2 separate regions of the Homo sapiens genome follow, and region 2 is linked to region 1. The links come from fine-mapping of genetic effects on gene expression. A gene starts in region 1. The other region holds a variant in brackets. All regions are shown on one strand. Distances are from middle to middle. Region 1 holds the start of KLRG2 (killer cell lectin like receptor G2). Region 2 overlaps KLRG2 (killer cell lectin like receptor G2).

The links. PIP is the estimated chance that this variant, and not a neighbour inherited with it, causes the effect.
Region 2: its variant is fine-mapped to the expression of KLRG2 in spinal cord (GTEx, PIP 0.95).

The regions. Positions count from the first base shown.
Region 1 is chr7:139,480,471-139,485,836 of GRCh38, forward strand. KLRG2 (killer cell lectin like receptor G2) reads right to left here and starts at 3,203. Exons shown (of 5, transcript NM_198508.4): 1 at 2,416-3,203. The coding sequence starts at 3,172. RefSeq lists an enhancer at 2,363-2,442 and silencers at 2,573-2,852, 3,313-3,372.
Region 2 is chr7:139,459,224-139,464,589 of GRCh38, forward strand. All of the region lies in intron 3 of KLRG2 (killer cell lectin like receptor G2), which reads right to left. Among named protein-coding and RNA genes, the nearest start is that of KLRG2, 22 kb to the right of the region's middle. RefSeq lists an enhancer at 2,695-3,464. The variant C/A (reference allele first, on the strand shown) is at 2,567.

The sequences.
Region 1 (5,366 bases):
AGTCTTGCTTTGTCGCCCAGGTTGGAGTGCAGTGGTGCGATCTCGGCTCACTGCAACCTCTGCCTCCCGGGTTCAAGCAATTCTCCTGCCTCAACCTCCTGAGTAGCTGGGGTTACAGGTGCGTGCCACCATGCCCGGCTAATTTTTTGTATTTTTAGTAGAGACGGGGTTTCACCATGTTGGCCAGGTTGGTCTTGAACTCCTGACCTTGTGATCTGCCCACCTCGGCCTCCCAAAGTGCTGGGATTACAGGTGTGAGCCAACGCGTCTGGCCCTTTTTTTTTTTTTTTTTTGAGACTGAGTCTTTCTATCGCCCAGGCTGGAGTGCAGTGGCATGATCTCAGCTCACTGCAACCTCCACCTCCTGGGTTCAAGCAATTCTCATGCCTTAGCCTCCCAAGTAGCTGGGATTACAGGTGACTGCCACCATGCCTGGCTAATTTTCATATCTTTAGTAGAGATGGGGTTTGACGATGTTGGTCAGGCTGGTCTTGAACTCCTGACCCTAAGTGATCCGCCCGCCTTGGCCTCCCAAAGTGCTGGGATTACAGGCGTGAGCCACCGTGCCCAGCTTCAGGAGCCTTATATGTGGAAGAGGAAGACAGGTGGTGAGCATCAGAAGTGGCAGCAGGAGGACTCTACCAACAACGCTGGATTTTAATATAGAGAAGGGCTTGACCTAAGAAAAGCCCAGAAGCTAGCAAAGGCAAGAAAAGGGAGTCTCCCCTAGACCCCCAGAAAGGAATGCAGCCCCACTGAAAACTCGATTTTAGACCAGTGAGCCGGCATTATAGACTTCTGACTTAACGGAACTGTAAGATAATACATTTGTGTCACTTAAAGACACTAAGTTTGTGGTAATTTGTTACAACAGCAATAGAAAACTAATATTCCATCACACAGAAAATGTGCTCACATCAAACTCTGCAAAAGTTCCTGAGTGATCCAAGCCCCTGAACCCTAGCCCTGTCTAAGAACCTCTCAACTAGAGGCCCTGGGAATTTGGTGCCTGTCAGTGGGCTTGGCCTGCTTCTCAATCAGCCAAGCTTTTGCCAGTTTGCCTGCTGGGCGGGGCTCTGACCCCTCCTGGCCGTTGCTCCTTCCAGTCTCTCTACCTAGCAGGGATCCCTAGCACCCCCTACTCCTACTCACCTTTCAAGATGTGGCTTTCTGGCTGGCCCGGTGGTTCACACCTGTAATCCCAGCACTTTGGGAGGCTGAGGCGGCTGGATCACCTGAGGTCAGGAGTTCCAGACCAGCCTGGCCAACATGATGAAACCCCCTGTCTACCAAAAATACAAAAACTAGCCAGGCATGGTGGCCGGCGCCTGTAATCCCAGCTACTCGGGAGGAGGCTGAGGCAGGAGAATCGCTTGAATCCAGGAGGCGAAGGTTGCAGTGAGCCGAGATTGTGCCATTGCACTCCAGCCTGGGTGACAAGCGCAAAACTTATTTCTTAAAAAAAAAAGAAAGAAAAAAGAAAAAAAGAAAAAAATTGGCTATCTCTTGCCCCAAATTCACCAACTACTCCCTCCAGTCTCCTTATCCAGGACAGTCTGTATCTTTTGTGGGCTCTTTCTTCTGTGTCAAGCTCCCCCTCCCCCACACCACAAAATAACCAGCCGCACATACTACTGGCACATCTACCCTGTGGTCCCACTCACTATCTACTGAATGGATGAGTGTTTGGGGCTAAATGTTCCTCAGTGTGGTGGAAAGAAAGCAGCAGCCTGGACCTTCCAGAAAGTCCTTGGCAGTGCAGGGATGGGGGGATCTGGGCTGCCACCCCTGCCACCTGATCCTGAATGACTTCCCCTCATCTGGAGTTCCTTCCACTGCTACTTCTCAAAGGTGCTGCGCATGCTAAGAGGGAATTTGAAAGTTCGGGAGTGCGGGTAGGGGAGGATGAGAAGGGGAGTGGCTTTACTCTTTTTTTTTTGAGACGGAGTTTCTCTCTTGTTGCCCAGGCTGGAGTACAATGGCATGATCTCGGCCCACTGCAACCTCCGCTTCTCGGGTTCAAGCGACTCTCCTGTCTCAGCCTCCTGAGTAGCTGGGATTACAGGTGAATGCCACCATGCCAGGCTAATTTTTGTATTTTTAGTAGAGACGGGGTTTCATCATATTGGTCAGGCTGGTCTCGAACTCCTGACCTCAGGTGATCCGCCCGCCTCGGCTTCCCAAAGTGCTGGGATTACAGGCGTGAGACACGGCAACAATGTGAATTACAGTTACGTAGACAGGAATGTTATTGATTGTAAGCCCGAGAGGCCAGATCGGGTTGGGGATCGGGATGGCCAACTGGGTCCCTTAGTCGGTCAGCTGCCCAGCGGTCCAGGGCTGGGCGGGTGTGGGGGTTTCGGCTACGTCCACCCGACCTGGCGGCGTCGGCTGCCGGCGCAGGTGAGCACTCACCCGTAAGCGTTACGGCCCGGGGCAGCTTCTCGTCGCCGTCCAACCCCGCGCGGGGCAACAGCGCCGCATCCTCCTTCTCCAGCCCCAGCTCCTTGCAGCGGCAGCACGTGGGGGAGCCCGGGGAGCCGGCGCTTCCTTCCGCGGGGCTGGCCCGGCCCTCTGCGTCGCAGCCGCTCTCCGTCCGGGCTGCAGCCAGCGGCGAGCGGCGGCCCCACGTGCCGCCCTGGGATGGTGCGCGCAGCAGGAGCTGGTGCGCCGGGTCCGCGTGGCGGGAGAAGGCAGGGGACTCGGGCACCGGCACCTTGAGGAAGCGCGTGGAGGGCCTGGGCGATGGCGTGCTGCTGCCACCGGCCGCGCCCACGGGCTTCACGCGCACATCTACCTGCAGCTCCATGGGCGCCCAGGCGCTGGGCGCAGGCTCAGCCCCGGGCGCCTCGCCATTCCGGGGCAGCTTGACCAAGGCAGGGCCCGGTGACGGCGGCTCGGGGCAGACCCCGTAGCCCAGGCTGAGCGGCGGCACGCGCGGGGACCCGGGGCGAGGCGAAGGCGGCTTTTTCTTGCTCGAGGGCTCCAGGCCTGCGCCCGCCGCCTTCTCCACGGCCCCGGCCGGACTTGGGCTGCTTTCGGGACCTTCAGGTTGTCGCACCTTCGCGGGCACCTGCGGCTGCTCCAGCGTGGGGACCAGGCTTCCCACGGGCTCCATTGGGAGCTCTGCCCCGGCTTGGCCTCCGGGCGCAGCCTCCCAAGACTCCTCCATCCCGCGCGCCCCGCCACCCGGAGACGCTGAGGAGCGCACCTGGGCCCAGTGCAGAGGAGCTTCGCTCTCCTCCGTCCGGATTGGTCCAGCCGCGTCGCCGAAGTTGTCAGGCCACGCCCCTCCCCGAAGGACCCCGCTGTGATTGGCTGTGGCTGAGGTTCTGCTGCCCCGACCCCCTTCGGGACACAGCCCCGGCCTCCACCAGGCACTGGGAGGGAGCTGAGAACGGCAGCGGGGCCAGGCGAGGGTTGCAGGGTGGGCGGGAGCTCTCGGGAGAAAAGCAGAACACCAGCGGAGGCTTGTGGCAGGGAACCCGGAGCCCCGCCTGACCCTTCCCTCTTCTTTGTCTCTGACCTCACCCATTTTCCCCTCCAGCCCTATGCCGGGGTGTTGGTTTTGAGAGTTACAGTTTGGGCGGGGAAGGATTGGCCAAGCCTGTCTGGATCCTGGGACCTCAGAGAAATCAGAATCCAAAGGAATTGGGGCGACCTGTGGAAAAGTAGCCCAGTTGGTTGTCCTGACAATCCAGCAGGGTTTCGAAAGGACTCTCCATCATACTTGGGAGGACTCCCCCACTGAGTAACGCTAAGAGAAAAGAAACAGGGCGTGGATAAGCAATTCTTCTTTTTTTTTTTTTTTTTGAGACGGAGTCTTGCTCTGTCGCCAGGCTGGAGTGCAGTGGCCCGATCTCGGCTCACTGCAATCTCCGCCTCCCAGGTTCAAGCGATTCTCCTGCCTCAGCCTCGTGAGTAGCTGGGACTACAGGCACCCACCCCACCACGCCCGGCTAATTTTTGTATTTTTAGTAGAGACGGGGTTTCACCATGTTGGCCAGGATGGTCTCGATCTCCTGACCTCGTGATCTGCCCGCCTCGGCCTCCCAAAGTGCTGGGGTTACAGGCGTGAGCCACCGCGCCCCGCCTGGCCTCTGGTATTTTTAAGTGCCCCCAGGGTAGGGTTGGCAGATAAAATGCAGGCCACTCAGTTTAATTTGAATTTCAGTTAAACAAGGGATAGTTTTTAGCATAGTAGTCCTCCCTTATCCACTGGGATAGTTCCAAGACCTCCCAGTGAATGCCTGAAACTTTGGATAGCACCAAACCCTATATATACTGTTTTTTTCTATACAAGCGGTCTTCAAAAGGTTCATGGAAAATTCATACTATGAAAAAAACTATGCATGGATTTGAAAATTTTTTGGCACCAAAATAAATTTGTACTAACTTGTTATCACATGTCTCGACAAGATCTAGTTTGAGGCACTAAGAAGGATAAGACATCAGTTTGAAAAGAGCTCCTGTCAGAGCAACAAGGATTCTGCTAAATTTGAAGCAAGAATAATCATCACATTTATGGTGACATCATTGATATTTTTATGAAAAGCTCATGGGGACAATGCCCCCAAGAAACCAGCAGTTTGCAAATGGAAAACTCGTTTTAAGAAGGGATGAGGCCAGGCGTGGTGGCTCAGCCTGTAATCCCAGCACTTTGGGAGGCCGAGGCAGGTGGATCACTTGAGGTAAGGAGTTCGAGACCAGCCTGGCCAACATGCTGAAATCCTGTCTCTACTAAAAAAGCAAAAATTAAGCTGGGCGCGGCAGCTCACGCCTGTAATCCCAGCACTTTGGGAGGCCGAGGTGGGCGGATTGACTGAGCTCAAGAGTTCAAGACCAGCCTGGGCAACACAGTGAAACCCCGTCTCTACTAAAATACAAAAAATTAGCTGGCATGGTGGCATGCGCCTGTAGTCTCAGCTACTCGGGTGCCTGAAAATACAAAAAATTAGCCGGGCGTGGTAGTGGGTGCCTGTAATCCTAGCTACTCGGGAGGCTGAGGCAGGAGAATTGCTTGAACTCGGGAGGCAGAGTTTGCAGTGAGCCGAGATTGTGCCACTGTACTCCAGCCTGGGTGACAGAAGGAGACTCCATCTCAAAAAAAAAAAAAAAGAGAAGGGATGAGACAATGTTGAGGATAAAGCCCTCAGTGGCAGACCATCCACATCAATTTTTGAGTAAAATAATTAATCTTATTTGTGCCCTCATGAAGAGGACCAACGATTAACAGCACAAACAACAGCCAACACCAAAGACGTCTCAATTGGTTCAGCTTACACTTTTCTGACTGAAAAATTAAAGTTGAGCAAAGTTTCCACTCTATGGAAAACCATTGCGTCCAGATCAGCTGCAGCCAAGAG
Region 2 (5,366 bases), 21 kb before region 1:
TCTAAGCTCATCTGAGGTGAACCTGTCTGATGTGAGGCCCGTTTTACTGGCTTCCTGTTGGCATTTGCTGTGCTCAATCTGTCTGTCTCAGGACAAAATGCTATGTTCATCAGTCTTAAGCGATGGGATTCCATAAGTAAGTAATGGGATGAACTATGTCCCTGCAACAATATGATCCCCGCCCTGCTTGGCTCCTGGCCCTAACTCTAGGCACTCTAGAGACCACCTTTGGTCCCACCTACATTCCTACAGGCCTTCAATTTGCAGATACAACCAGTCTGAGTCGTTTGGTACAGGAGCCTGGGGTGCTTTCTTTGCACAGCCCATTCCCATCTCAACGCCAACACCTCAGGGCCCAGCCCAGGCGCTGAGCAGAAACTGATCCCTACTGAGCTCCTCTTGCCCTCACAGGCTACTGGTGCCCTGGCATATTCCCCCATTCACAGCATATATTATTTGTGGAACATTTAGAAAATAAATGTTATTCCTGGTTACACAGTAATCTGTGCTCACTGAAAAACATCACCTCCAGATTTTTTTTTTTTGAGACGGAGTTTTACTCTTCTTGCCCAGGCTGGAGTGCAGTGGTGCAATCTCAGCTCACTGCAACCTCCGCCTCCCAGGTTCAAGCGATTCTCCTGCCTCAGCCTCCCAAGTAGCTGGAACTACAGGCACCCGCCACCACACTGGCTAATTTTTTGTATTTTTAGTAGAGACAGGGTTTCACCATGTTGGCGAGGATGGTCTTGATCTCTTGACCTCATGATCCGCCCGCCTCGGCTTCCCAAAGTGCTGGGATTACAGGTGTGAGCCCCCGCGCCTGGCCATATTTGTATATTTTTAGTAGAGGGTGGGTTTCACCATGTTGGCCAGGCCGGTCTCAAACTCCTGACCTCAGATGATCTGCCCGCCTTGGCCCCCCAAAGTGTTGGGATTACAGGCATGAGCCACTGGGCCCTCCAGCAGATTTTTACATGGGAAAAATGGGAAGATACCAGGACTGTTTCCTGAGCCTGCCATGGGGGTTGCGAGGGGACCTGGCCCCGACGTTGTTGGTGGCTCCAATGTCATCGTCCTGGTCTGTTTAGTTTGTTTTCTGTTGCTGTCACAGATTACCACAGAAAGGGTAATTTATAAGGAAAATCAATTACTTCTTACAGTTTTGGAGGCTGGGTCAGGTGCAGCGGCTCATGCCTGTAATCCCAGCCCTTTGGGAGGCCAAGATGGGAAGGTTGCTTGAGGCTAGGAGTTTGAGACCAGCCTGGGCAACAGAGTGAGACCCTGTCTGTACTAAAAGTCAAAAAAATTAGCCAGGCGTGGTTCCAGCTACTCAGGAGGCTGAGATGGGAGGATTGCTTGAGCCTGGGAGGTGGAGGCTGCAGCAAGCCATGATCACAACACTGCACTCCAGCCTGGGGAACAGAGCAAGACCCTGTCTAAAAAAAAAAAAGACAGCTGGGCACAGTGGGTCACACCTGTAATCTCAGCACTTTGGGAGGCCAAGGCAGGCAGATCACTTGATGTCACGAGTTTGAGACCGGCCTGGCTAACATGGTGAAACTCCACCTCTACTAAAAATACAAAAATTAGCTGCATGTGGTGGCAGGAGCCTGTAATTCTAGCTACTTGGGAGGCTGAGGCACCAGAATCGCTTGAACCCGGGAGGCAGAGGTTGCAGTGAACTAAGTGGCGACCTGCCACTGCACTCGAGCCTGGGTGACAGAGCGAGACTCTGTGTCAATTGAAAAAAAGAGGAGGTTGGGCGAGGGGGCTCACGCCTTTAATCCCAGCACTTTGGGAGGCCAAGGAAGGTGGATCAACTGAGGTCAGGAGTTCAAGACCAGCCTGTATTTTGTCTCTACTAAAAAACACAAAAATTATCCAGGCATGGTGATGGGACCTGTAATCCCCGCTACTCAGGAGGTTAAGGCAGGAGAATTGCTTGAACTTGGGAGGTAGGCTGCAGTGAGCTGAGATCGCACCACTGCACTCCAGCCTGGGTGACAGAGCCAGACTCCATCTAAAAAAAAAAGAGAGAGAGAGAAATGTGGGGGACACACCTAAACCATAGCAGCAGTGTTGGGGTGGGGCTTCTGAGCCAGGCCTTTGGTGCAAATATCTTCTCTGACACTCTGATCAAGGGCAAGTTACTGAGCTTTTCTTTGCCACAAGATTCCTTATCGATGAAAGAGAAAAACGAATCGTTATCTTCACATCACAGGGCTGTTTGGACTTTAGGATTGCCAGGCCTCTGAGCCCAAGCTAAGCCATCATATCCCCTGTGACCTGCACGTATACATCCAGATGGCCTGAAGTAACTGAAGAATCACAAAAGAACTGAAAATGCCCTGTTCCTGCCTTAACTGATGACATTACCTTGTGAAATTCCTTCTCCTGGCTCATCCTGGCTCAAAAGCTCCCCCACTGAGCACCTTATGACCCCCGCCCCTGCCCGCCAGCGAACAACACCCTTTGACTGTAATTATCCACTACCCACCCAAATCTTATAAAGCTGCCCCACCCTTATCTCCCTTCGCTGACTCTTTTCGGACTCAGCCCGCCTGCA[C/A]CCAGGTTAAATAAACAGCCTCATTGCTCACACAAAGCCTGTTTGGTGGTCTCTTCACACGGATGCGTGTGACATTTGGTGCCATGACTCGGATCAGGGATCCTTGGGAGATCAATCCCCTGTCCTCCTGCTCTTTGCACCTACGACCTCTGGTCCTCAGACCAACCAGCCCAAGGAACATCTCACCAATTTTAAATTGGATAAGCGGCCTCTTTTTACGCTTTTCTCCAACCTCTCTCACTATCCCTCAACCTCTTTCTCCTTTGAATCTTGGTGCCATCTTTCAGTCTCTCCCTTCTCTTAATTTCAGTGCCTTTCCTTTTCTGGTAGAGACAGGAGACGCGTTTTATCCGTGAACCCAAAACTCCATCGCTAGTTACGGACTCGGGAAAACAGTCTTCCCTTGGTGTTTAATCACGCAGGGATGCCTGCTTGATTACTCACCCACGTTTCAGAGGTGTCTGATCACACAGGGACGCCTGCCTTGGTCCTTCACCCTTAGCAGCAAGCACTGCTTTTCTTGGGGGCAAGCACCCCTCACCCCTTCTCTCCGTGTCTCTACCCCTTTTCCACTGTCCTGGGGGGCAAGCACCCCCCATCCCTTCTCTCTGTGTGTCTACCCCTTTTCCACTGTCCTGGGGGGCAAGCATCCCCCCACCTTCTCTCCGTGTCTCTACCCTCTCTTTTCTCTGGACTTGCCTCCTTCACTATAGGCAAACTTCCACCCTCCATTCCTCCTTCTTCTCCTTTAGCCTGTGTTCTCAAGAACTCAAAACCTCTTCAACTCACACCTGACCTAAAACCTAAATGCCTTATTTTCTTCTGCAATGCTGCTTGACCCCAATGCAAACTTGACAATGGTTCCAAATAGCCAGAAAACGGCACTTTCGATTTCTCCATCCTACAAGGTCTAGGTAATTCTTGTCATGAAATGGGCAAATGGTCTGAGGTGCCTGACGTCCAGGCATTCTTTTACACATCAGTCCCTCCCTAGTCTCTGTTCCCAATGCAATTAGTCCCAAATCTTGCTTCTTTCCCTCCCACCTGTCCCCTCAGTCCCAACCCCAAGCATTGCTGAGTCTTTCCAATCTTCCTTTTCTACAGACCCATCTGACCTCTCCTTTCCTCCCCAGGTTGCTCCTCACCAGGCCTAGCCAGGTCCCAATTCTTCCTCAGCCTCCGCTCCCCTACCCTATAATCCTTTTATCACCTCCTCTCCTCACACCCGACGCGGCTTACAGTTTCGTTCTGCGACTAGCCCTCCCCGACCTGCCCAGCAATTTCTTCTTAAAAGGTGGCTGGAGCCAAAGGCATGGTCAAGGTTTTTCTTTATCCGACCTCTCCCAAATCAGTTAGCGTTTAGGCTCTTTTTCATCAAATAGAAAAACCCAGCCCAGTTCTTGGCTCGTTTGGCAGCAACCTGAGACGCTTTACAGCCCTAGACCCTGAAAGGTCAGAAAGAAGGCCATCTTATTCTTAATACGCATTTTATTACCCAGTCCGCTCCTGACATTAAATAAAGCTCCAAAAATTAGATTCCAGCCCTCAAACCCCACAACAAGACTTAATTAACCTCGCCTTCAAGGTGTACAATAATAGAGCAGAGGCAGCCAGACAGCAACGCATTTCTGAGTTACAATTACTTGCCTCTGCCATGAGACAAAACCCAGCCGCACCTCCAGCATACAAGAACTTCAAAATGCCTAAGCCGCGCACACCTAAGCCACAGCGGCCAGGCGTTCCTACAGGACTTCCTCCACCAGGATCTTGCTTCAAGTGCCAGAAATCTGGCCACTGGGCCAAGGAATGCCCGCAGCCCAGGATTCCTCCTAAGCCGTGTCCCATGTGTATGGGACCCCACTGGAAATCAGACTGTCCAAGTCACCCAGCAGCCAACCCCAGAGTCCCTGGAACTCCGGCCCAAGGCTCTCTGACTGACTCCTTCCCAGATCTTCTTGACTTAGCGGCTGACGACCGACGCTGCCCAATTGCCTCAGAAGCTTCCTGGACCATCACAGATGCTTTGGGTAACTCTTATAGAGTGAAGGGTAAGTCCATCCCCTTCTTAATCAATACTGAGGCTACCCACTCCACATTACCTTCTTTTCAAGGGCCTGTTTGTTATGCCTCCATAACTGTTGTGGGTGTTGACGGCCAGGCTTCTAGACCTCTTAAAACTCCCCAACTCTGATGCTAGCTTGGACAATATTCTTTTATATACTCCTTCTAGTTATCCCCACCTGCCCAGCTCCCTTGTTAGGTCAAGACATTTTAACTAAATTATCTGCTTCCCTGACTGTTCCTGGGCTACAGCCACATCTCATTGCTGCCTTTTTCCCCAGTTCAAAGCCTCCTTTGCATTCTCCCCTTGTATCTCCCCACCTTAATCCACAAGGGTAGGACACCTCTACTCCCTCCTTGGCGATTGATCATGCACCCCTTACCATCCCATTAAAACCTAATCACCCATACCCCGCTAAACGCCAATATCCCATCACACAGCACGCTTTAGAAGCCTGTTATTACTCGCCTGTTACAGCATGGCCTTTTAAAACCTATAAACTCTCCTTACAATTCCCCCATTTTACCTGTCCTAAAACCAGACAAGTATTACAGGTTAGTTCAGGATCTGCGCCTTATCAACCAAATTGTTTTGCCTATCCACCCCGTGGTGCCAAACCCATATACTCTCCTATCCTCAATACCTCCCTCCACAACCCATTATTCTATTCTAGATAAACCTAGCTGACCCCATAAATCCTAAATCCTTTCCCCACTCCCCTTTCCATTCCTTAAAAAA